3 separate regions of the Homo sapiens genome follow, and regions 2 and 3 are each reported to be linked to region 1. The links are microRNA targets in miRTarBase. Many come from high-throughput screens and were not tested one by one. Region 1 holds a microRNA gene; each other region holds the end of a gene's coding sequence.
What was found. The annotated mature microRNA hsa-miR-4731-3p reads CACACAAGUGGCCCCCAACACU and lies in region 1 at 3,247-3,268, opposite strand. An mRNA with a match to its seed (bases 2 to 7 or 8) in the 3' UTR can be bound and repressed. Matches are read on the target gene's strand: a 7mer-m8 pairs with bases 2 to 8, a 7mer-A1 pairs with bases 2 to 7 and ends in A, and an 8mer does both.

Region 1 (9,585 bases):
CAAGGTATTCCAGCTAACTTTGATACAGTTATTCAATGAACTGCATTCCTAATTAAGAGGCTTTGTGGCAGGCACAGAGCTAGTTTGTCAGGGTCTAGTTCTGCACTTTGACATCCATATTCTTGCTCTGCTAGTGAGTTTTTGGACTTCTAAAGGGAATAACACGCAGCCACTGAGGTACCTGAGGTTACTGGATAATAGTAAGCTGTCTGAGGCTTTTTTATACCCTTGTTGGAAAACTCTAGAAACAGGGAAACAGAGTAGGCTTTGTTTCTCTAAGAATTGCTCTTGGAAGACTTACTCCACCAGATACAAAAGAAAAAGGAGGGGAGTGCATTGTACGATGAAGGATATCAATCTCCCTCCTTGGTAATTCACAATGTACCATGAATGATCAAAGCCTGCTTAACTTTCAAAACTTAGTGTCTTTCAAACGGATTTATCAGGAGACTTGTTTTTGTTTTTGTTTTTTAAAAGAAGAGCTCACTTAAAAACACTGAGTTTGGCCATAGAAAATGACGGGAAAGGCAGTTGCAATTGCAGTCATGAACTGCATCAGTGGAGAATGAACAGGGAATAATTCGCTTAGTTTTAAGATCTTCAGGTTTAGGAGGAATTCTCCCCATAGAAATAATAGAGTTCTCCTCCTTCTTTCCCCTAAAGTATGAAAAAAGAACACGCATTATGGAAATGAAGAGCTAGAACAAAAGAGCTGCTACCCCCACCAGTGACAGTAAACCAATGCCCGTTTACAAGCACAAAACCCATCTCTGCTCCCTCTGCCTACTGCAATTCTACCCCATTGCCAAGGCCCAGCTCAGAGGCCACCTCCTTTTAGGATCCCTCGATGCCACAATTACATCCTGAACATGAACAGAGGCTCCGGGACCCATGCAATGTGCAGGTCCTACCTCAACTTCAGGTCCTACCTCAATGCCTGCTCTGCTTTTAGGAAACCAGGGTACCTGCCCCAGGTTACCTAATTTGTTACAGGCAGACCCGGTGCAGAAAAACAAGGATTCCCTGATGCCCAGACTACTAGTTTTTCCACTACAACACACTGGGGGTGCAGAGAAGTCAATGATATGCTTGCAATCTAATGAATTAAATTATTCTACCACCATTCTTCAGACTTAGAATCCACAAAAACTAGAGAGGGTGGAAGGAGAATGGTGTGGCAAAGAGAGAGCGGCTTCCCTTATTCTCTGCTCATCAGCCTGCCAAGCCAAACCACTGACCAAACTTCAGAAGGGCAAGAAGAGGCCCTGCTTATGCAGCTGGGACCAGCACCAGAGAAGCCACTGAAAGAAGGAAGGAAAGAAAAACTGCAATCGTCAACTGTTTGAAGAGTCATCGTGTAGAGGAGAGACGGGGGTCACCCTGCAGTCATTGTCCAGGAGGCACTGTGGAGATTTAAATTCTTTAAGGACGTGCCAAGCAACTTGATAAAACCCAAGTCCAGCACATCAGGCATGAATGAAGGCAACTAGAAGTGAATGGACAAAAGAGGGGCAGTGTTGGGTTTAACAAGGTAATTTCTTTTTTTGAGACGGAGTCTCACTCTGTCGCTCAGGCTGGCGTGCAGTGGTGCGATCTCGGCTCACTGCAAGCTCCGCCTCCCGGGTTCACGCCATTCTCCTGCCTCAGCCTCCCGAGTAGCTGGGACTACAGGCACCGGCCACCACGCCCGGCTAATTTTGTTTTGTATTTTTAGTAGAGACAGGGTTTCACCGTGTTAGCCAGGATGGTCTCAATCTCCTGACCTTGTAATCCGCCCGCCTCAGCCTCCCAAAGTGCTGGGATTATAGGCGTGAGCCACCGCGCCCAGCCGAGGTAATTTCTTAAGTGACAATATCTCCTGGCATTCCTCCCTCATCACTGGCTGTTCATCCCCAGTCTCCTCTCCTTCCTGTACCCTCGTTAACCCCTGGCATGCCCAAGACTTAGCTCTGAACCCTGTTCCCCTTTTCTGCCTTCTGCTCTCAACTCCTCCCCAAGTAACTGTATTCAGCACCACAACATTGAATACCCTTCGGTATAGAGGAATGACTCTTGACTTTGAATTTCCAGCCCAGACCTCTCCCCTAAGCCAAAGACTTCTAAATTGAAGTGATTTGCTGACCTCTCTGATGGTCAAAATATAAATCCTGATTTCTACACCTTCCCGCAAATCTTCTGTTCCTCCTCCAGTCTCCCCATCTCAGTCCAAGATTCAGTTACACACCAGTTGCTCAAGCCCAAAACGTAGAGTCATCTAGAATCATTCTTCCCTAACTCCCTACATCTAACCCATCAGCAAACCCTGTCATGAGACCTGTTTTCTTCTCTACTTCCCCTCCCTAGCTAAGCCACCAGCTACCTCCTAGAGTTCTTGTGAGGATTAAATGCATTGCTTTTCAAAGAATGCCTGGCACTTACGTGAGCTGTTTGTATTCTTAACATCATTGTCATTGTCATCATTGTCATCTCAGTGTCATCATCATGTCCAGTCTGGACTATGACCACAAACTCCTCACTGGTCCCCAGTTTCCACTCTTGCCTCTCCCCAGAATTCATTCTCAACAGCCAGAATGAGCTTACAAAACATGAATCAAATCATGACACTCTTCTGCTTAAAACCCTTCAATGATGTCCCAACTGTCCTTCTCAGTACCACAGCCTGTGAGGCACCAGCGATCCTGCTCCCATCCCTCTCTCCCGCATTCCCCACCCTCCTTTCTTCAGCTAACTCAGGGCCTTGGTTCTTCCCTTTACCTCCTAGAATTTTCTTCCCATGGTTCTTCCTATAACTGGTCCTTCCCTGTCTTCTAAATCTCAGACCACATCACTATGGAAGGAAGAGGCCTTCCCTGAGCAGCTCATTCCTCCAGTGATGACTTTCCATTGGATCACCCTATTTGTTTCCTGCAGAGCATGTTCCACTACCCATAGTGATGCATGTATTGTGTATTGCCTGTTTCCTCCAACTCCTTGTGAGCTGCACAATGGCAGGGACCTGCTCTTTCTTGTTCATCTCTGTGCACCCCATTTCTAGAACAGTGCCCAGTACATAGGACAGGCTCAATAGAGTTGAAGAACACATGAATGGATCTCACTATTAGCTCTTCAAAAACAAAAGAGGCTCTCTTGAAGGTAATAAGTTCCCCATCAGTGGTAGGATGAACATGTGGTAGGCATATTGCAGAGGGGTCTGTGGCTCGATGGGATAGGAAGGAGGGATGGGCCAGATGACTCCGGGTCCCTGCCAGTGTTGGGGGCCACTTGTGTGTGGATGACTGCACACTCATGTGGCCCCCAGCACTGGCAGGGACCTGACCACAGTCAGAAGGCTTCATCCCAGACAGCCTTCTCTCGGGCACCAAAGATCAACATCCACAACCTCAGGCTGCACCATGGCCAGTCCCTGCTCCTGAAATGCAAGGGATGTTTTCTTGGTGCTGGTGAAATCTTGGGGATACAATTGAAGTTTTTTTAAAGCAAAGACTATAGATTCCAGGTCATACAGTTCAGACACAGGTTCAAACAAACATTTCATACTAATTCCTGGGTATTGGCATCAGAGAAACCCTAAGGGTTGAAATCCTGGCATGTTGACAACACATTCCGTCCTCTGTACCTCCCTTGTACCACCAGGGTCTCAGCATCTCATAAGAGCCTGTAAAATCCAGAGCCATTCCTTGGGTAGAGATTATGGGTTGGCTGAGGGAGCCACGAAGATTTTAAAATGTAAAACATGAACCCATAAATGCAGAAGGTCTCCCGTGTTTTCTAAAATCTGGCCAAAAGCTGAGCCACAGACAAGGAAATTGTCTGGTGTCCTTGCCAAAATGACAGTGTCACCAAATTGATAAACAAGTCTGGGATCGTTTTGAAGACAGCGATGATAGGAGACCACCAAGGGCTCAGGTTGGGGGCTGCTGAGACTGGCAAGATTTAGTTTCTCTAATTTTCAACCCAAAGCATTGATCTAATTCCTCACACAACCTATTGATAGTCATGAGTTTGCTGTTGCTGCTGCTGCTGCTGCTGCTGCTGCTGCTGCTGCTGTTTAAATGGAAAAGAAGAGTAGTAAGTGGTCATCTTCTCAGCGTCTGGTGCTGGTCCCGCCCACACACTGTGGCAGAGCAGACCCACCTGTTGTCACTGGGAAATGAGGGGCTGCAGGTACTGCCCTTAGACAATGGAGGTGGCCAAGGACGTTTGGGGACAGATTACAGGAAAGCTCAACAATTCCCTTCATGCTTTGGTGTTGAGCACTGGCCTCCTTTTTAAAAACAAAAGTGATTCAAAAAGGGGCACATTTTTTGTGCCTAACACCTCAGCATGAAAAAGTTTATCAACTACCTTTTCTTCTGAGACAAGAGAGGACTTTGTGAGCAGGGACAGGCCCTGAGAGACAGATTTTACTGAAGACAAACTGCCTGGGTCCTGCCTCATCACTGAAGCTGATGAAGACCAGCCAGGGGCCAGGGCAAGCCAGGACTGTGCCCTTCTAGCTCTTGGGCTCCCAAGCCGCCTGTGGCTTAATTCCAGTATTCTGACCCATTCTGCTACACGTCAGGTCCACACAAATTAAACAAAAAGCAGGGGAATGCTTGTGAGAACTTGGACTTGATATTTGGATCTTGGAGACTTCAAAACAAAAAGCACTGGTTCATTCAATAGCAGGGCAAATGTTTTGCCTGAATCCTTTGGGTCAGTAGATTTTAAACTCACCCATAGGGTCTTGGGGAGGAGGCTTGGCACACCCCTCCCCCTCACCAGAGCCTTCCAGATTGTATGAGTTTGCAAACTAAAGCTCCAGGAACTGGCCTCATTCAAAGCGACGCCATGGACCCTGCGTGCCATGCCCCAGGGCTCCACTCTCTTAATCAAGGCAGAGGGAACCTACTTACTACTCAAAACCAATTTTCTAACATAAAATGTTCACAGTTATTTTCTGATTGTGAAAATAAAAGATCTCAATGAGGAAAACAGGTAAGGCAGCAAAAGAAAGAAAACAGCCAAAGTGATAAGAATCCCGTCACCCAAAATAATCACTGAAAATATACCGATGCATTTCTACCTTGTACAATTTCTGATATATTCTGCCTTATAGAGGCTTCTGGACTGTCACTCCAACTTGGAATCAAATGGACCACTGAGAAACCCGTGGAAGACAGCAGGTCTAAGGAAATCACAAAGATTAGAAATGCATCCATGTGCACCCAACTCCTTCCTAGTGGGGGTGGGGGGTACCTTTGAGATGGTCTGTGATTCTACTTACCCCTCACTCTCTGTTCCCACTAGTCTGCCCTGCCCTCTGTCCCTCAACTACGCCAAGCTCCTTCCCTCCCCAGCGATCTTGCACTTGACGGTCCTTCTGTATGGAACCTCCCCGAGATGTTCATATGGCTGGCTCCTGGCCACTCCTCAAGGAGACCTTCCTTCACCACTGCAATCCCTCTTTATCCCATTACCCTGTCTTATATAGTTCTTACCATTGCCCCCAAATTCTCCATGTTTACTGACTGGTTTGTCCAGTAAAACATAAGCTCTTGTTCACTCTTGTAACCTTAGCACCTGCAATAGTCTCTGGTACACGAGAGTTGTTCAAGAAATAGTCCTGCATGAAAGATCAGAAGAGAAATGGAGAGACTCCCGAAGTGGGAAGTTCACATTTCAGGACGTGAGAAAACGCTGAAATTCCAAGATGAGGGGAAGAGAGATGGGAGGTGAGACTTAACAGAAGCAGGAGTGGATCATTCAGGTAGATTCCGATGGGCCTTGTTAAAGATTTTCATCTGAAGATTAAGACCAATGAACGGCCTCTGAAAGGTTTCAAAATGAGGAGTGATATAATTAGGTTTGTGCTTTTTTAAATATCAGCCTGGATTCCATATGAAAAATGAGTCACAGAGGAGCAAGAAAGGGTTCAGGCAAACTAGTTAGGAGGCTGCCCTGGCGCCTCTGACAAACGAGGAAGCAGCGTGACCACAGGTGGGCAACAGGCATTGGAACAATGGGGTGGCCTGAGGGACCCGTGACAATGCTGAGAAGAGAAAGAAGGAAACGCGTCAAGTCAAGGCAGACTCTAGATGTTTGGCTTGCTGGCTGGTGAAGCAGCATTCACTAAAATACTAGAAAGTGACAGAGGGGTTGAATTGGCAGAGGAAGATAAGGACTGTCTCTGGCCTAGTGACTTGGGGGCCTCTCTTAGATATCCCAAGGGAAGTGGCCAGGAGACAGCTGGATAAACAGGTCTGGGATTCAGAAGAGAGGTCTGGACTCATTAAATAATAATAAGATGGCCAGGCATGGTGGCTCACGCTTGTAATCTCAGCACTTTGGGAGGCTGAGGCAGGTGGATCACCTGAGGTCGGGAGTTCGAGACCAGCCTGACCAACATGGAGAAAGCCCGTCTCTACTAAAAATACAAAAAATTAGCCAAGCGTGGTGGCGCATGCCTGTAATCCCAGCTACCCGGGAGGCTGAGGCAGGAGAATTGCTTGAACCCGGGAAGCGGAGGTTGCAGTGAGCCAAGATGGCGCCACTGAACTCCAGCCTGGGCAACAAGAGTGAAACTCTGTCTCAATAATAATAATAAGACTTACTTATACCTGGAGAGGTGGTAGAAATAGAGAGAGAGAAGCCTCAACAGGTCCTAAAGTTTCTGAGAAGAGCCCATGTGAGAATGGTGGGGTGGCTGACAGAGCCCAGGATGCAGCAGAGATGGACTCTTTGAAGAATGCTGAAATAACTGGGACTTATGGAACTGCATAGGGCCCAACTGAGCTATTGCAAAAGAGTATGATTGGGTATGGGAGGGGATGGTCAAACCCTCAAGGAAAGTATTCCACACCAGGCTTACAGAGAGGTATTTGCTGCCAGGTTTCTATGATTTGAAAAGCCATGCTTCCCCCAAGGCCGAATGACTATATTTCTCAGCCTCTCTTGTAAATAGGTGTAGGTGTGACCATGTCACATTTCATTAAAAGAAAAGGAGATTCATTCTTCCCCACCTCCTTTCTCCACCCTACTGCTTGAATCATGGATGAGATGGCTGGAGCTCTAGCAGCCTTTTGTTTCCTGAAGATGACAGCCAAACCCAAGAGATGGCAAAGAAATGAGCTAGAAAGTGTCTGCATCTCTGACAATTTCATGGAACCTCCATACCTCTCTCAGGCTACCTACTTCCAGACTTCTTTGAAAAGAGAGAAAAATAAATGATCTTACTTAAGCCCCTATCATTTGAAGATGTTCTCTTATACACAATCAATCCTAATCCTAACCAGAACACTAGCCAACCAGTCTACCCCATCCCCTGCCTTGTTCTACCCTTACCTTAGGTCACAGGGAATATTCTCCTCCCCGTTGCCTGTATTGACTTAAATCCTGCCCATCCTTTGGAGGATGGATCAGATTCTACCTCCCACCAGAGATTTCCCATCCGCTTCCTCCCTGAACTCAGACGCTGTCTGCCTGCCTCCCTTTGGGCACCTGGCCTGCTCTGCCTTCCAAGGGAGTGATTCACCCTTCCATATCTATCTCCTGACTCTTCGACCAGGCTCGGGACCATCAAGGCAAGGCCCATGCATTCCAGATCCTTGTATTCCCTGGGCCGGAGAGGCACTGGATACAATATCATAACGAATATCCCCACACTAAGCCTCTCTTACCTCTGCCCACACGAGGCAGATAAGGAGGGGGTGCCAGAAAGTATACAAACACATTTAGAAAAACGAGAAGGCAGGCGGAGTCAAAGTCAGTTAGTTAAAAATCTAAAACTATTTCTAATATTAAGATGTAGCCTGGGGGCAAGATCTGGTGTGTCTCTTTCAAACTACACAACCTAGATGTTAGACTGCCTCATGGCACGATGCCAGGAGGCCCCATTCATGTAGAAAACAACATGAGTGGCAACCCCCAGAGAGAGGTGAAGTGTCATGGTCATGCACCAGAAAAATGAGTCCTTTCAGAAAAAAATACCAAGTCACATGGCGCAGTGGCTCACACCTCTAATCCCAGCACTTTGGGAGGTGAGGTGGGTGGATCTCCTGAGGTCAGGAGTTCGAGACCAGCCTGCCCAACATGATGAAACCCCTCTCTACTAAAAATACAAAAATTAGCCAGGCGTGGTGTTGGGCGCCTATAATCCCAGCTACTCGGGAGGCTGAGGCAGGAAAATCGCTTGAACCCAGGAGGTGGAGGTTGTAGTCAGCCGAGATTGCACCACTATTTATTTTTTCACACTTGCAACATATTCTTCACAAATCGATGTCAATAACAAATTACTTTTGATTACTTAACAAGTATTTTTTTTCAAATATACTTTCTAAGAGCAAATACAGACAAGTTAAATGGTTCGCAATGAGCATAGTTCATTTGTAAAGACAGTATAATGTTTTAAAAAGTACACATTTTTTTCAGCTTATTGTCTGCAGCCACAATTGTTAAACTCAATCAAAGAGGCCCTGGAGGATTCGCCACTTAAGGCTGAAGTCGTAGCAAGTGCTGCCACGTTGGGGAAGATAGCGGCAGAGATAACCACTACTGGGGAAGTGTAAATGGAAATTTCAAATTTAGATTAAGCCTGAGTGGCGTGAAAACAAACCCAGCATGTTCAGGTGCAGTGTCCAGATGTTTTCAAAATGCCCTGATTGTGAGAGCTGAGAAGGGAGATGTGGAAAACAGACACTCTGGGGTCCTCACGGAAAGCAACGAGGCAGATTTGAAACCCACACTAAGGAGGCATTGTAAATGAACTCAAGAACATGAGCTTGGCACAGAAGGAACAAGTTGAGAGATAAGAAGTTTCCTGATTAAAATAACCCTAGTGCCTCTTTGAGATCTGCTTCTAGCACCAACTGACAGCTATTTCCAACGGCAGAAGACACCAAATGTCAATCTGTAACATGCTACAGGTCAATATTGCTTTCTTTCCTGCAGATGGTTTAAGCACAACTTAGCAACTCCTCTGCCGCCTCGTTTCTGCTGAAACTTCGCCGGGTTTTAACACGCCTGCCAAAACTGCCCCCTTCCGGGCCCAAGAGTCCAGGATTCTGTGCCAAGCCGCGTGGCCAGATGCCACTTGGGGATGGCGCCTGTGAGCACCAAAGCCTGCCCTTTTCGGGCTGAGTCACTACTTGTAACCACCAGGTGTCAGTAGCGAGTACGGAGACTCCCATCCGGAGTGCTCCGGGAACTTCAGCCAGACCCTAAAGGGGGAGAAACCGGATGCTGTGGCTTTGGGGACAAGCAGTGCTACGGTCACATTCTCAGGCACTCATGAGTATTTCATTTACTCAGTTGCCAACTCACCATGCAAACCCACCACGTAATTTCTGGGATGGCTTTAATTCAATGCCTTTCACACACTCAGAGACAAGATTAAGCACTGTTCTCACTCCAATAGGACTGGGACCTTTTCTCTGCTCCCTCCCCAACCCAGAAGGTAAAAACATAAAGCAGGGTTTTCTACTCCTTGCGTATCTTCTCCATGTAAATTACCAAATTATTATTTTAGCAGTTTCTATTTGTACTGTGGTTCAAGGAATTTGGTTTATAATGCTTCAGCTGGGGACATGCTTGGGTATTACTGGGTAC
Region 2 (10,865 bases), not on the chromosome of region 1:
TGATCCACCCGCCTCCCAAAGAGCTGGGATTACAGGCGTGAGCCACCATGCCCGGCCATGTCTTACGTCTTTTTTGTCACGCTATTACTCTATTACTGCCTTCTTTTTGTTAAGTAGATATTTTCTAGTGTACCATTTTAATTCCCTTGTCAAAAAGCATGAATCATGAAAGAAAAATTTGGTAAGTTGGATATCATCAAAATTAAAAATGTTTACTCTCTTAAAGTCATGGTTAAAAAGTGAAAAGTCAGGCTGGGCGTGGTGGCTCACGCCTGTAATCCCAGCACTTTGGGAGGCTGAGCAGGTGGATCACAAGGTCAAGAGATCAAGACCGTCCTGGCTAACACGGTGAAACCCCGTCTCTACTAAAAATACAAAAAAATTAGCTGGGTGTGGTGGCAAGCAGCTGTAGTCCCAGCTACTCGGAAGGCTGAGGCAGGGGAATGGAATGAACCCGGGAGACGGAGCTTGCAGTGAGCCAAGATGGCGCCACTGCACTCCAGCCTGGGCGATGGAGCAAGACTCTGTCTCAAAAAAAGAAAAAAAACGAAAAACTGAAAAGGCAAGCCAAAAACTAGGAGATGATAATCGCAAAACTTATATCTTATAAAGGACTTATATCCTGAATATATTACTTACAATTCAATAAAGTGACTCAGCAAAAACAAATGAGTAAATATTCGAACAGTCACTTTACCAAAGAACATATACAGATAGCAAGTAAACACCTGAAAAGATGCTCGGTATCTTTAGTCATTATGGAAATGCAAATTAAATCCAGGAGTTAATATTACACACTCTCTTGAATGGTAAAAAATCAAGACTGACAACATCAAGTGTTGCATGAATATGAAGTAACCGAAACTCTCATATGATTGCTGGGAGAAATGCAAAAGAGTATTCCAGCTTTGGAAAAGAATCTTGTGAAGTTTCTTATAAAGTTAAAAATATATTTATCAGGCCAGGCATGGTGGCTCACTCCTGTAATTTAAGCACTTTGGGAGGCTGAGGCAAGTGGATCACAAGGGTTCGAGACCAGCCTGGCCAACATAGCAAAACCCTGTCTCTACTAAAAATAAAGGCTGCAGTGAGCCAAGATCGAGGCACTGCACTCCAGCCTGAGCAACAGAGTGAGACTCCATCTCAAAGAAACAGAAAAAAAAGGAATATATATATATATATATATAAAAAATAGCCCAGCAATGCCATTCCTTGAGTATTAAGATAAACAAAAATCTACATCCATCTTGAAAATGACAGAAGTAGATTTTAAGTGTCCTCACCACAAAAAATGGAAAGTATGTGAGGTAATGTGATAAGTATGTCAGTTTAATTATTTCAACGTAGTCATTCCACAATGTATACATATTTCAAAACGTGGTACATGATAAATTTACACAATTTTTCTTTGTCAATTTAAATAATTACCTAAAAAGAAAATCCACACCCAGATAAAGAATTGAACATAAATTTTCACAGGAGCTTTATTCTTAATAGCCCAAAACTGGAAACAGTTCCATGTTCATGAATGGGTGAGTGAATAAACAAACTATGGCATAGCCATCAGAAACATTAGGCTAAAGGAGAGAAATCAGACACAGACCATATGCTTTATGATGATACTGATATGAAATTCTAGAAAAGTCAAAACTTTAGTGACAGAAGGCAGACTGGCAGGGTTCGGGAGTGGGAGGAGGGGATTGACTGCAAAGAGCCATGCAGGAACCTGGGGAGTGATGGAAAGAGTCTATGACTTACTCGTTTAGGTAGTTGTAGTACTGTCTGTCAAAACTCATTGAGCTGTGCACATAAAATTGCTGAATTTGATACATATGAGTTATACCTCAATAAAGAAAATACGAGGTCAAGCTCAGTGGCTCAGCCTGTAGTCCCAGCACTTTGGGAGGCTGAGGCAGGTGGATCACTAGGTCAGGAGTTCGAGACCAGCCTGGCCAATATGGTGAAACCCCGTCTCTACTAAAAAATGCAAAAATTAGCTGGGCGTGGTGGCGTACACCTGTAGTCCCAGCTACTCAGGAGGCTGAGACAGGAGAATTGCTGGAACCCAGGAGGCGGAGGTTGCAGTGAGCCGAGATCACGCCACTGCACTCCAGCCCAGGCAACAGAGTGAGATTCCATCTAAAAAAAAAAAAGAAAAGAAAAGAAAAGAAAGAAAATAGAATTAGCACTAGCAACAAAAATATAAGGTACTAGGAATTAATGTAATGAAATGCAAAAACCTTCATGAAGAAAATGATAAGATTGTGTTGAAAGAATTGGCAGGGACAGTTAATACCCAGCAAAGATTGCAGGTGATCTCCCACACAGCACAGCCTCCTCTGCAGTTACGCTGTGGCCTTGTGACAATGGAATATAAGAGCAAGTGATGTTCACTGGTGAGAGATGTAGTTCAGATGCGGGAATCTCATCTAGTTGTCTCTTCTTCTCCCACAATGATCTTGGAGAATGGGGGTTCAGTTCAAGTTGGTATCAGTGAGGAAAATGCTGCCTGGGCTGCACAGGACTTTACCCAAGCTGGAATAAACCTTTATTGTCTTAAACCTTGAAATTTGTGGCTCTTTCTGTTGGGGCTGTTTGTGCTCATTAATACCAAAGACATTAAAGAAGACCCAAATGTGGGAAGTTATACCCTGTTCATCCATGGGAATACACATTTCCGCAACAATGTCAATGTAATTTCAATCAGAAGCCCACTGGACTCTTCATGTACCTCAACAGATTCTAAAATGTCTGTGGTAGTGCAAAGAGATTGGAGTAGCCAAGACATTCCTTAAGAAAAAGCTGGGGGGCCGGGCACGGTGGCTCATGCCTGTAATCCCTGCACTTTTGGAGGCCGAGGCAGGTGGATCACCTGAGGTCAGGAGCTTGAGACCAGCCTGGCCAACATGGTGAAAACTCGTCTCTACTAAAAATACAAAAAAATTAGCCAGGCATGGTGGTGGGTGCCTGTAGTCCCAGCTACTCAGGAGGCTGAGGTAGGAGAATCGCTTAAACCTGGGAGGCGGAGGTTGCAGTGAGCTGAGATCACACCATTGCACTCCAGCCTGGGTGACAAGAGCAAGATTCCATCTGAAAAAAAAAAAAGAAGAAGAAGAAGGTGGGGGACTTACTCTATATCAACATACTTTATAAAGCTAGTGTAACTAAGACAATTGACTGTTTGAATGGGGATAGACAAGCTAATAGTACAGAATAGAGAGCCTCGACACAGACCCAGATATGATAGAGACGTGACATTGTATTGCATATTAATCAAGCCTCATTCAAGAAACAATGTAGGAAAAATTGGTTATCCATATGCGGCAAAAAAGAAATTGAACTACGCCTTCACACCACACCAAAGTCAATTAGAGTAAGGACTTAAATGTGAAAAGCAAAACTTCACTTCTAGAAAGAATATAGAACACATCTTTACAACATCAGGGTAAGATAGGTTTCTTAAGCAAAAAAGGCACTAAGGAAGTACTAGACATTAAATATATATATATATATATAGCCAAAATTGACCTCATTAAAGTGTAAAGCTTCTGTTTATCAGGGAACACCCCTCCAAAAAAAGCAAAAATACAAACCATAAACAGATATTTGCAATAAATATAGCGGACAAAGGATTTAGTTTTTCAAAAAGATGTGTAAAATTCTGACAAATCAATAAAAAGACAATAGAAAATTGGTCAAAATATGTGAATAAATATTTCTCAGAAAAGGAAACACAAACAGCAAATGAATATACGAACAAGCATCCAACCTTACTGGTAATTGGGGATTTGCACATTAAAACACAAGTAGATATGACTAGATTAGGAAAAATAAGAAAGCCTGATGATTCCAATTATTGGCAAGAATATGAAGCAAGAGCAATTCTCATACTCTGCAGGTGGGAGTGGAAATTGTTAGAACCACTTAAAACAGCTTGGCATTATCTTGTAAAGTGAAGATTAATTTACTCTGTGAGTCAGTTATTCCACTCCTAGATACAGAGCCTAGAGATCCTCTTACCATGTTTTTCAGGAGCCACAAACAAGAACATTTGTCGCAGCAGTCCTGTTAATCACAGGAATGAAAACTGACTGAAATGTCTATGTTCGGAAGAACACATATGTAAATGGTGGACGATTCATATACTGGAATGCTATACAGCAATGAAAACGAACTATCCATGCATTGACAGGATCTCAAAATTACAGTATTGAATGAAAAAAACCCAAATTATTAAAGAATGCATGCAGCATACCATTTATGCAAAGTTTTAAAATTACAAATATATTCAGTGGTGTATGAAGATGGTGGGTATGGCCCACCCCTAATGCAGGTAATAAAAAGGCCCACTGTTTGTAAAGAAAAGAATAATAAAACTGACCAAAATCTGATTTTTATTGTCACCATACATCAGCAATTCTGGACAATATTATTGATAAAAATTCTTGCCACAAAGGCAGCTACTTCCAATCTCCACTCCCCACCTTGGTGTGCAACTGAATACATTCTTTAGAGTCATTTGTTTCTATAGAAAGAGTATCATGAAAAGTAATGATAAAATTCAGGTGAGAGGTTTTCCTTGGAGGGAGGGAGAGGGACACACTTGGGCAACAGCATAGATGCCTTCAAAGGTATTCCTTATGCTCCATTCCTTATGTTCCATTCCTTAAACTGAGTGATTGGTACATAGCTGTTGATATTATTTTTTATATCTGATTTACATAATGTATCTCTTCAGTAGGTACGAAATATTCCACCCTCAAGAGAAAGAAAATTAAAGCAGCAAAATCAACAAGGGGTGCAGGTGGAGGAGAAGGCATGCTTTGTAGTGCACTGGAAGCTGCAAACCCAAGAAAGAATAAAAGGGCCGTGGTCAGTCAGAAGAGAATGAGGGACCCTGGAGCAGCTGCCCAGGCCGAGGCTCAGGGCATGCGGGGGCCTGAATTGGGGTAGGGGAACTCTGGGAAGCTTTTGCTTCCAGGCTGGGGAAGCCACAGGCCTAGGTGAGGTTAACCCCAGGAAGTGCATCTGGAGTGAGAAGACGGGGGACAAGGCCAGAGGCCCAGGGAGCACCAACCTTTTGGGAGAAAGAAGAGCCCTTCAAGCTGAGGCTGAGCTTGAGAAAGGTGAAGCAGTGAGCAGAGGATGGGGTCCCATGTGCTGAGGAGGGCCTGGTGGAGGAGGTCACACCCTGCTAAGAGGACAGCAGGACGCCGGCTGGGAAGGAGGCCCTGGATTTCACAATGTGGGCAGGTGAATTCATCAGAAATTGTCAGAGCCATGCGGTGGAGGAGGAAATGAGGACAGGGAGGGGACACAGCTCTCCGGTGGGAAGAGTGAGGAGTAGCGGCTGGGAAGAGACGTGGAGTCCAGGTAGGGATCTTACGCATCTTTCAATTGTCCCTTAAAAATCCCAGTCGGGTTTAGCCCCACTAGGGAGAAAAAGTGCCTTCAGGCCTTCCCACAGCGCCAGCAGCACGAGCACAGCAGGTGTCCCTTGGGGCTGACGCATAGGGTGCTCATGGTGGGGTGGAGGAGCTGTCTGCCCCTGTGCTGGGAGCATTCTATCACTGACACTGTCTGAATTGCTGGTACATGGTGATCAGAGGAAGCAAACTGACATTTAGTCACTTTTACCGTCTTTTTAAAATTCTCTACAGTTAACACACCCTTTGTTGCCTGCACCAGGGACAGACAGCTCCTACCGCCAGCCCTTGCTAAGGCTCTAGTGGGACGAGACCAGATTGAGTCCCCGGCACCTGGGTGTGCAGCCCCGCTCCTTTCTTCTAGCTGACAGGGCTGGCAAATTCCTGCCTCTCTGAGCCCCTTTCCCTTTGGCTCACTGTAACTGAGGGAAATTCTGACCTCTGGGGTGGTTGGGCAGATGACAGCAAAGGAAAGACCCAGGGCCTACCGCACAGGAGGTACTTACTAGCTGTCCTTCCCGCATCAGGGAACAGAGGAGACAGTGACTGAGGACCCCGCAGCGAATGCCCCACCCACACAGGCTTCCTCTCAGCGGGGCCTGTCCCCACTGCTTCCCCACAGCCCCAGAGGCCAGGCCTCAGCCATTCAGACGCGGGGGAGGTGATCGCAGCACAGGGCCGCGCCCTGCCTCTGCCGCTCCGGGGGTCCCCAAGGAAGCACCAACGCCTGGCCGCAGGGGGCAGTTGTCATGGGGACGCCAGGGCCCGCTGAGCTGCCTCCTTAGCAACGGGACTCCCCGGCCAGTTGCCATGGAAACAGCATCCCCTGGCAAGCGGTGATGGGGAACGGCTGGGTTTCCTGCCCTTTTCCGAGGACTTTCCCCTCCTAGGGCGGGAGACACGGCACTCCCTATACCGGCGGGAGCCGCGAGGACTTGGTTTTTCCAGTCGCCCGTCGCCACCCCAGGAGGGGGCCTCTGCCCGACCCCGCGAAGTCCCAGGGCCCGGAGGAACCCTCTGGAGACAGGGGTGGGGAAGGGGGTCACCCGGGGACCAGGCCTAGCCCCGAACAGGCACAGCAGTGGGAAGTCCGTGCCCTGCCTCCTTCCAGAGGCCCCACATGCTGCCTCTGCCCTCGGGCCCCCACCAACCCACACAGGAGCCCAGCGCTGTTCCCCCACCCCTCGGCCACCCTCTGATGCCCTCCCCCTTGCCCAGTCACCTTGTGTCTCCAGCCACCCTCCCACTTCTGAGAGCTTACCTAAGACGGCATCCCCCTCTATCTAGCTGGATGGAGCCCAGGTGCACATTCACCACCCTCCTCCTCAGCCAGCCCTGGCAGTAGGGGGTGGGAAGGGTCTCACACCTCCCCCACTCCTGCGTTTCTCCCCTCCACTAGCAAAGCACACATGCCCACTCGCTCTCACCCTCCTCAATGATTCTCACCAGTCCATAAGCACGTGCACACCTGTGTCCATAGCCAGGCCTTGCACATCCCCCGTGCACACCTCTATGCACAGAACACAGCTCCATGCTCTTGCAGGCATAGGTTTGCACATACACAAGTGCCCTCTGGGCCATGTCCCCTGCCTTCCACACCCGAGTTCCCAAGACTCCAGGATTTCCCAATGACCTCACCCCCACCCCTATCCCTGGCCCCTAGAAGAAGGTAGCATCTGCTGGAATTTTTTTTATTTAAATAAAATATACAATACGGCGCATTTACCGGTTTCTGTTTTAAAAGTGGATTTGAAAATTCCTTGTAGGTGACTGGGTGTGGGAGGGCCCATTGCCTGCACCTGTCTGTCCCAGTCTCTGCAGAGTGGCCAGGTTGGGTCAGAGCTATTATAAAATGCATGTGTGTGTAAGTAGAGAAGAGGGTGGTTAGGCCAGGCTCTGATGGCAAGGGGGCTCCTCATGGCCCTGGACCCTCCACCTTCACCCCTGCTGCCTCCAGGACAAGACTGTGGGTTTGGATCAAGTCCTGCTGCCTCTCAGAGCTGCCTTCCTTAAGGGGAAGGGGTGTGTGCAGAACTCAGGTTGAGGCTAAGTCCTTCCAGTTCTCAGAACTCCTGAGCCAGCACAGTAGAGACCAGTACTAGGCGGCGTCTAGTCTTTACCTAAGATCCCAGGAACCTTCACCCACTTCTCTCCTGGAGTACTGCCTCCCACTCCCTGCAGCCCATCTATGGAGAAATCGGTTTGTCTCACATCCCAGGATAGCTCAAGGCAAAACCCGATCTTGCCAACATTCTGGCTTGGAGCATGGAAGGTTCTGGATGGATAATGTGGGACCAGCCCTTCTCATTACTTGGGGATTGCAGCCATACCTGCTCTGGCCCTATAGGCAGGGGCAGACCCCTGACCTTGGCTCTGGCAAGATCCCATCTGGGAGGAGGGAGGATGGTGCCTCCAAAGGCATCTGAGCTGCTTTCTCGTTCCCGCAATCTGGAACCTGCTTATGGCTCCTAGTTGCCAGGACTAAGCCCAGACAATCCCTTACCCTATCACCCAAGGCCGTCCCTCTGACCCCTCAGCCTGGGGATCCCCTCCCAAAGCCCTGATCCACCACTCCACATCCACCTCAGGAATCTCCCCACCATACACTCCATCCCACCCACCATTCCCTCCCTCTCTCCCTGTTGAAGTCTTCCCACTTCTCAAGGCCTGGCTCCCACCCACCTCTGGCCACACACCTTCCTTGGGCCCTTAGGGAGGCCCAGCCACCTCCTGAGTCCTGAGATTTTAAGTCTTGGAGCCCTCAGCCAAAGCTCCCTGGGCTCTCACATAGTTTGCTGGAGCAATAGGCTGGGCATATGAGGGGCAGAAGAAATGTGATTTTTTATTGAGCACCTACCATGGTATGTGCCAGGCGCTGGGCTGGGCATTTCACATATAGATTTTTCTCATCTGGTCCTCATAGGTCCTTGTGAGGCAGTACCATAATTATTCCCATTTTACAAATGAGGTGACAGAAAGGTCAGATAACTTGCCCAAGATCATACAGCTAAGAAGTGGCAGGGCTGGGATTCAAACCCAGGCCTGACTGCTGCCAAAATCTGGTGTCTTCCTTCTGTACCATGCTTGGGGACCATCTACCTCAGCCCCCCTCAACACAGTTTTCTGATGGAAGGAACACAGACTTGGGCCTCAAGGAGGCGTGGACTCGAACCTCAAATCAGTCCCCACTCTGCCACTCCTAGTTACATGATTCTGGAAAAATTACCCAAAACTGTTTCTTCCTCTGCTAAATGGGGAGAATCAAAGTACCCACCCCATGGTCTTTGTGAAACTGAAGGAGTTAATGTGTGTAAAGTGCGAAACCAGTGCTTGGCACAGAGCAGACTCAATAAACAGAAGTTCCGCTCACCTCCCACTGTACAGATGGGCAAACTGACGGCCCCAGAGGTGGCGGTGTGTGCTTGAGGCCCTAGGAAAGGGGAGTCTTCCACTTCCGTGTGGTGAGAGGTCAGGCTGGGACTGGCTTTGAGACCAGAGATGGGGAGAGAGGGGGCCTGCTGCGAAGTCCTGGGGTCCTCTTCCCTGAGGACTGGAGAGAGAACGTCCCTAGACCATGCAGTGCACAGCCTGTGGGCCAAGGCGGGTTGCTGGGTGTAAGGTGACCTGGGCATCCTGTCAACATGGGATTAAACTAGACCGCACACGTGTGCGCACATGTGAGTGGCTATCTACATGGCTCTACAGAGCGCTACATAGCTATACATATACACATCTTACATACATATACATATACATATTCATATACAGATCTTGCTACGTTTACAGTAGAAAAAATGCTAGGCCCTCAGGGCCCTGGCCCTTTTCTCCCAAGGTCGCAGGCTTCTGAGGCTCCCCAGGGCACACCCCAGGGCAGCCCCTTTCTGGGGGCAGAGTGGAGCTCCAAGTTACAGCTAACGGGCTGATGGCAGCTGTTTCTCTAAATGAACACAATGACACATCTGCTCTAAGAACCGCCAACACTGGCCACTCCCACCCCTGCCCAGCCCCGGAGACCCCATCTGCCTTTCTCTGGCTTTTGCATTTGGGACCTGCCTGCTCCCTCCTCCCTCCCCCTCCCTCCCTCTAGTGCTGAGTATTAAAATAGTCTATAAAAGCAAGTGACCAAAAATCTATAGCTCTAAGAATACCTGGTTATTTTCTGCTGTCTTTTGTTTTTCTGGTGTGTGTGGTTTTTTAAATAATTATTACTGTTATTGGTATATCTCCTAATCACAGTTAAACCTGAAGGAAGAAGGAAGGGAGAGAAAAGAAGAAAGAAGAGGGAAGGAAGGGCCCAGCTCATAGATTGGATGGCAGTTTGGAGCGCACTGGCTCAGGCCTGGCCCCAGGTTCCCTCTGGGGTCCAGCAGTCAGAGGGGGCCCCCCAGAAGAGGTGGCTCTTGCCCCAAACAAAGACAGAGGGGGTGGCAAAGAACCTGAGGATGTCTTCCGAGGCAGAGTGACGTGCTGGCCGGGGATGGCACCATAGGGCCTCCCAGGGGGACCGAGGCCCCCGCTGCTCCCACTGCCCCCGCTGCCACCCCCAGCCCTGGGGAAGAGCGGGAAGGCAGCCATGGACTCCCCTGAGGAGTGCGGGGAGGCTCTGCGGAGAGTCTGCGCCCCGTCCTGAGGCAGGGCTGGCTGAGACGCGGAGATGAGCTTGAGGTCCTGGGTGAGGCGGCCGGGGGTGAGCGGGGGTGTGCCCCGGCGCTGGGGGACCTGGGGTGGTGGGGGGCTGGATGCAGGTGGCAGGAGCAAGGATCCGTGGGAGCCAGAGGCCCGGGGCGGGGCACTCGGGAAGGTTCTTGGGGGGCCTGGGCTGTGGCCAGGGGGGCTGAGACCTCCTCGGGGAGTAAAGCCTACAGGGGAAGCCCCCCCAGAGGCCCCTGCCACAAGGGACGGCGGCTCAGGCTGCCGTGGGGGTGTCTCTGGCGTGCTCAGTGGGCCAGTGGCCAGACCTAGGGACAACTCCCCGGGAGGCTGGCCCAGCTGCCCGGGGCTAGATGACGGGGATCTGGATGAGGGTGGGGGTGGCAGGAAGTGCTCCGGGAGTCCCAGGCCTCCCCGGGCCCCGGGTGGCGCGGGAGATGGCTGGGCAGCCTGCGGGGAGCGGGCGCCTGGCTGCAGCGGGGTGAGCAGGGGAGAGTCGGAGGAGGACAGGGAGCCACCCAGCGCCTTGTGGAAGTGGCCAAACCCGGCTATGGTGGTGGCGGCTACGCCAGCTGATGGTGTGGGAGCCGAGGGGGAGCCACAGGCCCCGGGGGGTGGGGAGGAGCTGGATGAGGGCAGGAGTGGGCTCAGTCCAGCGGGGGCAGAGAATCCAGCCAGCTGTTGGATGTGGAAGGAGGATGAAGACGGTGTGTCCACCTGGGACGGGCTGCTGGCGGGCGAGGCGGAGCCCAGCGCAGAAGGGATCAGGGACTGCAGCCGTTTCAGGTG
Region 3 (10,865 bases), not on the chromosome of region 1:
ATATAGCTAACCTTTCATCACTTACTTCCTCCCTTCTAAACCATTTGGTTTCCATGAGTTAAAAACGTGCACCATTCCTGTCTTAGGGAGTTTCTTCCAAGCCGTGGATGCCCATTCTGCAAGTCTTGATGCTGCCACTTTTGATGTTGGTGTGCGCATTGACGATTGCACCTGACTGCCTTAGCCCACAGAAGTCATAAGGTGCCATTGATCCTACTTCAGAGATGTTAAAATGTATTTCTTAGAATTGATGAAATATAGTATCGTCAGCATCTTTATCTGCAGTTGAATGAATAATGGGCTTCTGCAGAGGCAGATTTGGCCTGAATCTGATACTAATGAAACTGTCATCTCAGGGCCCCTCACTTGCATGGACCCTTCCAAGGCTCTGTCCTTGTCATTTTGTATTATTTTTCTTAAGGCCCCCCAGATTGAATAACGTTCGTGTCCCACAAAATGTGGATCCGCCTCCAAGCCTCGATCCTCATTGCTCTTTCCTCTCATGTCTTCCTGCCCTCATTTCTCTCATTTTACCCAGAGAATTTTACCCACAGCCCTCCCCTTCTGTCTCCCTCTCCTCCAGGGTCCCAGCCATTCCGGTGCTTGTACTGTGCTGCTACTTTCCGTTTTCCTGGAGCATTGCAGCACCATGTCACCACGGAGCACTTCAAGCAGTCAGAGACCACCTTCCCCTGTGAGCTCTGTGGGGAACTCTTCACCTCCCAGGCCCAGCTTGACAGTCACCTGGAATCTGAGCACCCAAAGGTGATGAGCACGGAAACCCAGGCCGCAGCCTCACAGATGGCGCAGGTGATTCTGGGGCCATCAGCTACATTAGAATGCTAATGCATGGTTCCTAAGGCTTCTCTAGAGGTGGCTCTGTCATAGTACCCAGAGATACTCTTTGGGGATCTTGTAGAGAGTCTCTCTGGACTTCTTACAAAACAGAACAGAAAATTCTAGTCTCCTGGTGGCCACATGGGAAGTGGCCCTTAGGTAGAGGGAGCCTGGAACAATAATTTCCAAAAGAGGAACAGCTTGGTTCCTCCTCCCAGTGCATACGTCCCTGCCTCCTGAGAAACACCGTGGGGTGTGGTGAGAACTGCGGGAAACCTCGGAGACAGAGGAACACTTTGTTGGGCAGGGACTGCCTGCAGTTGAAGTGCTTGGAGAGCGCCTCTGGGCAGGACACAGTACACACTTGCACACACCTGGGCCTCTCACCTTTACCTGGGCAAAAAAACCACCTCTTCTTGATGCTTCAGGGCTAAGCTTGATCCAGCTTCCCTTTGCTTCCCAGATCCTCTTTTACTCTTCTTCCCATCTTCTCCAGAGAGGGTGGGCAGAAAAGGAAAATAAATTCAGGTCCATCCATCGTCAGTAATTTGTGGGTGGGTTGGAGAGGAACCATAAACTGATTGAGGTTTTGGTCTGTTAGACTGTCCCGCTGTCCAGTTCCAGATCAGTCATTTATAAACCAGGTTCTTACAGGCCTCTGGGGAACAGAGGGGAAGTCAGGTAGGCAGGACTCCCGCCAACACTCTGCTGTCATATCAACCAAAGGTGCTCTGCTTTTATCTTTTTTGTATATTATGGTTCTTGATAATATGTCCTTTGGGGAAAAGGTGGGGCTGGGGCGTCCATTTCTAAAAGAAAAAGAAAGAAAAGCAGTTTGAAAACTACTATCCTGGATCATTGTTGATTGAACATCACAGTTGATCTCTTCTCTCCTGTAGCACGGAGAAGTAGCTGGGCTTGGCTTCCTCACTTGTTCCTGCTCTCTGCTCTTCACTGATTCTCAAGAGCAAGGTGGCTGTGGCCTCTAGTTTAAAAATATCAAGGGCATCTAGCTCTTCTGGGATCTATGGGTTAGAAACATCAACTGGGAGGCTTAGGCGGGAATTGGATATGCCTAACCACAGACTCATTCTCTCTCAGTTGGAAAGGTGGTCTCTAACAGATTATGCAGATTTGGAAGGGACATAGGTGGGCTGTGGAGGAGAGAAGGGGGCACTGGCCCCGCCAGGCTGGTGAGCTGAATGAATGCGTGGAGTCACAGTTCATCCAGTCTTCCTCCTAAGCTCGGTCACTGTGTGGCCTCCTGGGAAGGCTGTGAGCCTGCGAGAGGTCCAGAGAGGCTGCCCCGGGCCCACCTGGGCCTGTGGTGGATCAATCCCATTCCCATGTTCCAGGCATGAGACCAGCTGGCTTCAGTGGCATTCCTCTCACATGGCACTCACCTCTGCAGTGTCATCCCAAGACAGGAAAGCCCAGTGTGAAAAACAGAGCCAGTGTTCGCTGGTGTATAATCATAGAGTCCGGGCGCCCCGAGATGGCGTACTGAGCAAAATTATAGCAATTTAGTGCACAGTTATTTAAATTGTTTGCTGGCCTTCTCTTTTGCATCGCCAGTGGGTTAGACTTGCCTCTTCCCATTAGGCACATGTAAGTGCTCTCCTCAGGTGAAAACATAAATATCATCATTACAGCATGAGATGAAAACCATGTAAATCAGGGAGCCAACTGTGAACACTGCCCAGAGCAGCCTCACGGTCTTTCTCTTTCAGGTGATCCAAACCCCAGAGCCGGTGGCCCCGACAGAGCAGGTGATCACTTTGGAGGAGACCCAGCTTGCCGGGTCGCAGGTGTTTGTGACGTTGCCAGATTCTCAGGCATCTCAGGCCAGCTCTGAGCTCGTGGCGGTGACTGTGGAGGACTTGCTGGATGGCACAGTGACGCTGATCTGTGGTGAGGCCAAATGAGCAGCCTTTCATCCGGCAGAGCCTTCCTGCGTTTGCAGCAGAGAGGAGGCCCCACAGCTTGCCCTTTGCCCTCCATCCCTGGCTGTCCTGAGTGGTGAGCATCTTAGCTTAGCACCAACCAACACAGTCTCACCTAGAAAACAGATGGAAGCTTCGTTGTTCTCATAGAACCAACAGCATCTGAGCCCTCAACACCAACAGCACCATCCTCTGTAGCAGACAGGCCTCCCTCCCCACAGGCCCGCTGCTGCGGCCTCTATGACACTGTCCATCCCCAAGTGACATGTGGCTTCAGAAGTAGAGTCTGAAAGAGCAGTGGGATGGGAGCTGGTGACCAGGGTACCCCAGGAGGCATGATGTGCCGACAGCGCTCAGTGGGCAGAATGGCAGTTAGATATGGGACTTGGCCCACAGTGGGGGCTGCAAATGCTGCCACTGCCTCTGGCCATTTAAAGTGAGAGGGGCACCAACAGACAATTCGGGGACCTTAGGCCCCTTCCTGAGGCACACTTGGCCCCTTCCTCGGTCCTATCATCCTACCCTCTGCTGGGGTTCCCCCTCCACCCAGTGGCCACGCCCAGCACCCTATTGATGGCTATAGGACAGGTAGCCCTCATTTCCATGCCTGATAACCCCTTGTCAGTTGTCAGCTCTTCCCAAAACAAAGCTCTGGAGTTTCTGCTGGAAGTGTTTAATGTGAGGCATCAGCTGCTAGACAGTGTCTGCCTTTCCAGGACATTCTTCTTGGTATTCCTTACCTGAAGCCTGGTTCCCACAGCTCTTCCGTGTCATCTTCATCCCCTTCCTTTAATCAAAGGCTGAAATCTCTGCCTGACCTGGCAGCCTGGCTCCCTCTGGGTCATATGGTGCAGACTGTGACCAGCACCAGGCAGGCAGTCCTGTCTGCGTGTGGAGGAGCAGCCGTGACTGCCCGTGGCTCTGCTGCCGCCCACTCCCTGCCTTGTGAGTGGCCTGCTGCCTCACCTCCCGCAGGCCGCCACACTTATTGCAGGTCAGTGATCCTTTGGAGTTTGAATTTCACAAAGCTTTTTTTATCTTCAGTTCCTAAAATATAATCTGATAATTAATGGTTTGTGGAATCCATTATGAAGTGCAATTAGATAGATGTAGGTTCCTGCCGTTTGGAGAGAATGACTAGCATTTATCTTCTTTTCCTTCCATGCCAAAGGTTGGAGTCTGCTGGTGCGGTGTTTACACACCAGGCAGGGCTGTCTGCCACCTTGTGTGGCTTGACCCCCTGTGGAGGGGAGTGCCTGGTTGGATCCCACACTGGCAGAGATGGGGCCACCCCTTCCTTCCAGGCACATCTCACATTGCCATGTACAGAGGCAGGAGTCACGTTTGGTCACCATGGAAGCTTTTATTGCTCCCACATGGTCAGGTCTCACCCTGCTTGAAGCGCAGAAGGCACAGCCTTACTGACCAGCACGCCCACTGACTGGCATCTGCCGGCTTTGTGCAGGCAGCCCCGACGGTTTCCACAGCGAGCGCCAGCTCCGGCCAGCCTGGGACAGCTCATCCCAGCCGACTACACCTGCTTCTGGTCCTGTCCACATTTTGATACGCAGATCACTTGAGCTTGTCAATTAGGGTTCTGCCATTCTGAAATAAATGAAGTTTCTAAAGCAGAGTCGGCCTCAGAAGCCAAAAACTGACCAGAAGATGGTGCTCAAACCTTTAAGACTTCATCTCCATGTGAAGGGCTCACTGTTTCTACCAAGGCTGTGCCTGTATTAAGGCTTTTCCGTCCTGGGAACTGTCAGTCTGGGAGAGCTCTTGATCTGCAGGTGGCAAAATGGCACTGAATATCCCCTTGGCAGCAGAGAAAACCCACTGAAAGATCGTAGAGTGGCACATGCTTACAGGGCATTGGTGCCAAGTCCAGTGGATGAGAATCCAGCCCCTCACAAGCTGTGGGATGGGGCTTGGGAGTTGCAGTGAATGTCATTAAAATTTCTTCCAAAACAAAACTAGAAATAATTGCTGAGGGCTTATAGGGAAGTGATTTAAAAAGAAAAAACAAACAACAACAAAAAAAACTCTTCGGAATAAAGAGGGCTGTAAATTTTGAATTCCAGTGTCAGATCCTTTCAAGCACTGAGAAATTCTTTCTCAGGTTTCTTTTTTTGGGGGAGACAGGGTCTTGCTCTGTCACCCAGACTGGAACACAGTGGCACGATCTTGGCTCACTGCAACCTCTGCGGGCTCACGCAATCCTCCTGCCACAGCTTCCCAAGTAGCTGGGACCACAGGCGTGAGCCACCACTGCTGGCCAGTTTTTGTATTTTTTTTTTTTTTTGTAGAGACAGGGTCTCGCCATGTTGCCCAGGCTGGTTTAAAACTCCTGAGCTCAAGCAGTTCTCCCACCTGGGCCTCCCAAAGTGCTAGGATTACAGACATGAGCCACTACGCCTGGCCAGGTTTCTGTTGGAGACCCAGATTGTGACAAGACATTTGTTTTCTTCGGAATCACCAGATTTGCAGCTTACTGTGCCGAGAGTGGACTGGCTGCCGGGGCCCATCAGATGCCCTCTGGCCCATGGCACACTCAGCAGAAGGCACAAACCCAGTGCTGGTTCTCATCAAGAAAGAGGGGAAGGCCCTTCCCGAGTTTACTGTCTGCTCTGAGTGGGCTCCGCACTGGCTGACTGATTTTATAGTCTTGCTCTCTAGAGAAGCCCAGGCATGGATCTTATAGGAAAACTTTCTGACTCTGCTTGGCCATTTTATCCTTTTCTCCTACTTCTGCCCAAGAGACCTGAATTGCTGCCATAGAGGACAGTGTTTGTGTGGTCTCCTGAGTCCACATCGCTCGCTTCCATGGGGTCCCGGTGTTGTTTTTGCCTCGTTCCCCATAGGCTGCTGCCCTTATGGCCTCTGGACTGAACTCTGGGGCCTTTGGGGTGGTGTGAAGGAGTCTGTGGGCTTCTTGGAACACATGGATCTGTTCGGTGGGTCCCCAGACCTCTGCTCCCAGAGCTCATGGCCCAGGTGGTGAGGAGGGAAAGGCAGTCAGATTCCAGGCTGGAGTGTGATTCTGTGGGAATACTGGGGTCAGTTATGGAACAGGACTTGCCCATCATAGGTAAGTGAGACAGCAAATAGATGATTCAAGAGCAAGGATTACTGCGGGAAGGTGAGACTCCTACTGTCCACGCGCATGAGCAGAACCTGGAACCAGAGGGGCAGGGACCAGGGGTCTTTACTCATTTATTTTATGGGTAAAGAGACATGAAGAGACAGCCTCTCTCTTCTGTCTCAGAAGCTCTGTGTTTGGGAAACTTTGAGCCCAGTGAGTAGCAGGGTCTGCAGTGTGAGTACCAGGTTTCCCTGGCAATCCAGGTCTCCTCTGAGGAAGCATTCTGACTTCCCACTGACCACGGAAGGCATGTCAGCTTCATGCCTCGGGCTAGAGTTCTGATAATCGGGGCTGAGGGGTGAAAAGAAATCCAGTCAGACAGACAGTGGGGAGACAGGTCCCTGCCCTTTATTTGCGGGATCAATCAGGGACTCCCAGAAAGGAAGGAGAATGGTGAGAAGGGCCCTAAGAGTTCGTCTCTCACCTGGGGGCTGGTGACGTGGTCACCACAAGCTGAAGACAGGCTAATGGGGTGGCGGGTGTGTGTTTAAACCTCACGTGCCTGGAAGCTGCACATTGACCAAAGGAGGGAGGGAAGTGCTAACCATGTATAGAGTGGGCAGGCGGTTCCAGGGAGACAAGCAGCATGTTATTAAATTGGGCCTAGGCAGTTGGACGATAATGGAGAAAAAGCAGGGATGCTATAATGAGTCCTCCCCAAGGGTGAGTTCAGCACCCCAGCCCTGTTCTGCTTGTATCCCAGTGATACTTGGGAGGTAGGAAGAAAATGGGAGTAAGAGAACAATTTGGGGCTGAAGGGAGTGTCAGAGGCACGTTGATCCTTGTTTTGTTGTCATGGAAACTTCGGGGCTGGTGGGACTTAGGCCAAAAGCTCAGAGGCACAGCCAAAATTTAGAAGCTTGCTACTCCTACGACTCGGCCTATAAGGAAGAGAGAAGCTGTCTGTACTTTGGGGACTACATTGCTGAAGGAAAAAAATCACTCCCTGGCTAATTAAGATTGCTTCCAAATTGGGGGAATGTGTGTCATTTCCTTTACCAAGGCCAGTCATCCCTGCTTCCACCCATGGTCAGGACAGTCAGCCACTACGTGATGCTGTATAAATTGGATTACAAACCATATTCTTGTTCAGCTTGCACTAATCTATATAAATAAAATATGTACTTTGAAAAAAATTAGGCTACATGAGTTTCAAATGGACTGTGATGTTATAGACCTGCTTTCTCTTTGGTTCTGGGCCAGTGTCAGACGGGGACAGGGGTGATAGGCCTGGTGTCCTAGGGGCCATTTGTGTACCTTGAGGCCGTGTTAACATGGCCTGGGGGAAAGAAAGCTCTCCTGTCACTTGGAGTCTCATTCCTAAACCCTCCTTCCCAGGGAGCAAGTGTGGGGCAGGGTTTCAGAGCACAGGCTTTGGTGTCCAGCCTGGGTACATCCAGCTGTCCCGCTGTCTAACTGACATTGTGTGAGATGCTTACTCTCTCTGAGCTCCCTCCTCCTGGCTCCCAACTTTATTATAAAATGGGGAAAATGATTGTGCTTGCCCTACAGAATTGTAGTATGAATTAAAAGTCTGGATTTAATGTATTTAATATAGAAAATTTTAGCTTTTATTAATAAAAGTTTTTGGCATACAAGTCAACTATTCCCTGCATTCTCTGGCACTAAAGAGAATGTTCATTCCTGTATCTTTATGTAGTCTTTTTCCTCTCTGAAGCCTTAAGGGATCCTTATAACACCCACTTTTCATTTATCTCTTGAATCTCAACTGCCCCGAAAGTACAAAGTGCTGAGCAGATAGCTGTAAAATAAACTAAACCTTTCTTGGTGAACAGCTGAAAATGTCACATTGCTGGCAGCCAACAAGGAAACAAGAGCAGGAGACCCGGATGGGATGTACATGAGTTCTGCAGGAAGCACCCAGTGTTTAAGACGAGGGGAGGGGCATCAGATCCCGCAGCCCTGACGCTGTAGAGAGCAGAGGAGTTGGGGAGGTTCTATGCTCACTCCTCCTGGGACAGTTCTGGAGGAGCACAGATGGACCCTTGTTCAGAGTCCGCAAGTGTGTTTAGGAAGGAATGCTGCCCTGCCTAAGTGCTGTCTTTGGAGAGCAGGGCTGGAGCTGCCTATGTCATATTTTGGGCAGTAGTCCTGAGAGTGTCCCAGCCAGCTGCAGTGGGTAATTGTAACATACAGTTGGGCCCCAGCCACATTTGAAGGTATGCAGAGGTGAAGTGCTGCTGCAGGTCGGGTGGGATTGAGCAGAGCTAGGAAGTGGGCCGAGGGGTTCCCTCAGTGATCTTCTGGGCCAAGGTGGCTGGCTGGAAGGAGCTGAGCAGCATGGTGGAAAAGACATGGGCTTGGGAGCTTCCTAGCTCCACGTCTTACTAGACAGATGACCTTGGGCGAGTTTTTCCTGACAGTGACTATGAGAAGAAAGTTAACATTTGTAAAATATCTGACAGAGTATAGACGCTTCGTAGATGATGGCTGTTCGTGTTTATAATATTTTAGAAGGGCCTGGAGGAAGAGCTGGGGCAGAGGACAGCTGGAAAGGAAGAGCTGGGGCGGAGGACAGCTGGAAAGGAGGTACCTAATGTGTCCTTAGATAACAGGGTCTGAAACCCAGTGCAAGGGTCTCCAAAACCAGGGTAAGAGGAGGCATAAACCCAGAGACCCCAGCCCAGGCCAGAGTGAACAGTGGTACGAGGGGAACAGGATCTCCCGGGTTGGAACAGGGGCTCTCAGCTCTTTGGCACTGCAGCAGAGGGGTCGCATCTGAGTAAAGGCAGAAACCTGGGAATGTTGGGTGGGGACACATCCAGTGAGAGCAAAGGAAATGGAAAAACTAAGTCTGCAGTGATTTTTGGCTTCTCTGCCTCTTTAGTGTTCACTGTCTATCCTTTTCTCCATGGGCTTATGCTCAGGATATGTTTGGAGTGAAAGGTTAAAGGGGCTCTGGCACCATGCAGAGGTGTCCTAGACCAGGGTCTTTACTCTTCATTAAGAGATGAAGAGGTTATAAGGACGTGGACATAGAAACCAAGTTCATGTTCTCGAGAATGTTCTGCAGGCTTTTCTTCGTGCATCTGTCCTGCCTTTTGGCCTTTCACCAGGGCAGGTGTAGGTCCCATGCCCACCAAGACCTCTGTATCTCCTCCGCATACTCAGACTGGGCAGTACTCAGTGGATGCTTAGCAGATGCTGCCGACTGCTGGAGACAGGGACTCTGACCTTGGGCTCTCTCTTCCGAGGGGTAGAGGAGCTGCTTCCTATTCTGCAGCTCTGCACCACATGTTCAGTATGAGCTGTTTCTAGCCAGTCGTGGAATACGCTATTATTCCATCTACTCTCCATCCACCTCATGTCTGCAACCTTGTGAGGCAGAGCCAGCACTTGGCGGGGTTGCGTGTGCTGCTAGAATCCTGAGCTCCATCGTGGAGAAAGAACTTCCCCCAGCTTTCCCTGTCACTCCCTAAATCTGTATTCTGCGATGTCCCAAATCCATCCACTACACGATTGAAACCCTAGGTATGCAGTTGTGTATTTGGTGCCTTAATCCTCACACAGCTTCATCTCATTTGAGATTCTAACCAGTATGAGGACAGGGACCACATCCTATTTACTGCCCTCGTTTCTCTGAGAGTTAGGAGTGCTGTGTTGGGCACACAGAGGCTCTGCCAGAACCAAGTGGTACCCCTCTTGCTTACCTTCATTTCTCGGCTCAGGGAGAACCCAACTTCCACATTTTACTCTGGTCATTGAGGCTGTACCCCAAGTTACCCGTGGGCTGGTCTGTCAGAACATCCTCCTCTCTTTGTCCTCTGAGGAGAGATTAGCAGAAGGCTAAGAGCAGCCAGCCAGGCCCCACCACTCCCAGCTGCTCTGATCAAACACCATTCCTGCCGCTTCTTCTAGCTCTGGCTCCCCCGGCGCAGGCCAGAAACAGCTGATCAAACACATCAGGACAAGGTCAGTCCAGGGACCCACGGTCCCCTCCAGGGGAGATTTCACAGCCCTGCCATCAGGAGGGTCTGATAAAAATGGGCAGGGGGCGGGGAAGGGGGCCTGTGGGGCTGGCACAGGACCAAACAGCTTTTCATTTTGTTTAAGGTTGAAACCCCTGTGCTCCACACAGGGTCCACACCAAGCCAGCATTTCCAGAAAGGCAGAGCTGGAGCTGAGGAGACGGGAGCTGTGTGTGCACGTATGAGTATGTGGGGGTGAGAGAGATGTCAAGAGCACATGTGGGTTTGGGAGCATGGGATTATTAGATTGTCACAGGATGACTTAAGATCCTCCCCCGCTAAACTGCGACCCCTTCAAGGGCAAGGACTGTGCATTATCCTCGTTCTCTCTCTTACATGCACATGTGTGTACCCAGCAGTTAGCCTGGCACATCAGGTGCCTGATTGCACAGGTATGTTAGACCTGAAGTTCTGGGACTCGGTGAGGTCCTGTTACCGGGCTAAAATGGTGCCTGGCTCCCGCTCCTACAGGACTCATCAGCCAGGTAAGGATTATATATGAATGAGAAACAGATACCAAAACACCCATGTCTGTCCAGACTCAAGATCTAAAGATCCCAGCGCCTACAAATTCTGTGGGGGTTTTGGTTAGTTGGTTGATTGGTTGGTCTTTTTCATGGGTAGGGGAAGGAAGGGGAGGATTAATATTTTTTAGAAATAGGCCAGGCGCGATGGCTCATGCCTATAATCCCAGCACTTTGGGAAGCCGAGGCAGGTGGATCATCTGAGGTCAGGAGTTCGAGACCAGCCTGGACAACATGGTGAAACCCCATCTCTACTAAAAATATAAAATTAACCGGACGTGGTGTGCATGCCTGTAGTCTTAGCTACTTGGGAGGCTGAGTCAGGAGAATCACTTGAACCCAGGAGGCGGAGGCTACAGTGGGCTGAGATCACGCCACTGCGCTCCAGCCTGGAGAAGACAGAGCGAGACTCCATCTCAAAAAAAAAAAA

Region 2: the mRNA of HCN4 is a reported target of hsa-miR-4731-3p. The part of its 3' UTR that is shown has no 7-base or 8-base seed match.
Region 3: the mRNA of ZBTB40 is a reported target of hsa-miR-4731-3p. Seed matches in the 3' UTR shown: 7mer-m8 at 4,003-4,009 and 7mer-A1 at 7,172-7,178.

The regions. Positions count from the first base shown.
Region 1 is chr17:15,248,388-15,257,972 of GRCh38, forward strand. It overlaps MIR4731 (microRNA 4731), which reads right to left and starts at 3,309; the gene lies at 3,240-3,309. All of the region lies in intron 3 of PMP22 (peripheral myelin protein 22), which reads right to left.
Region 2 is chr15:73,312,756-73,323,620 of GRCh38, forward strand. It overlaps HCN4 (hyperpolarization activated cyclic nucleotide gated potassium channel 4), which reads right to left. Exons shown (of 8, transcript NM_005477.3): 8 at 7,104-10,865. The coding sequence ends at 9,726. Among named protein-coding and RNA genes, the nearest start is that of MIR12135, 18 kb to the left of the region's middle. RefSeq lists a silencer at 6,216-6,265.
Region 3 is chr1:22,523,635-22,534,499 of GRCh38, forward strand. It overlaps ZBTB40 (zinc finger and BTB domain containing 40), which reads left to right. Exons shown (of 18, transcript NM_014870.4): 17 at 584-810; 18 at 2,568-7,520. The coding sequence ends at 2,762. Among named protein-coding and RNA genes, the nearest start is that of EPHA8, 34 kb to the right of the region's middle.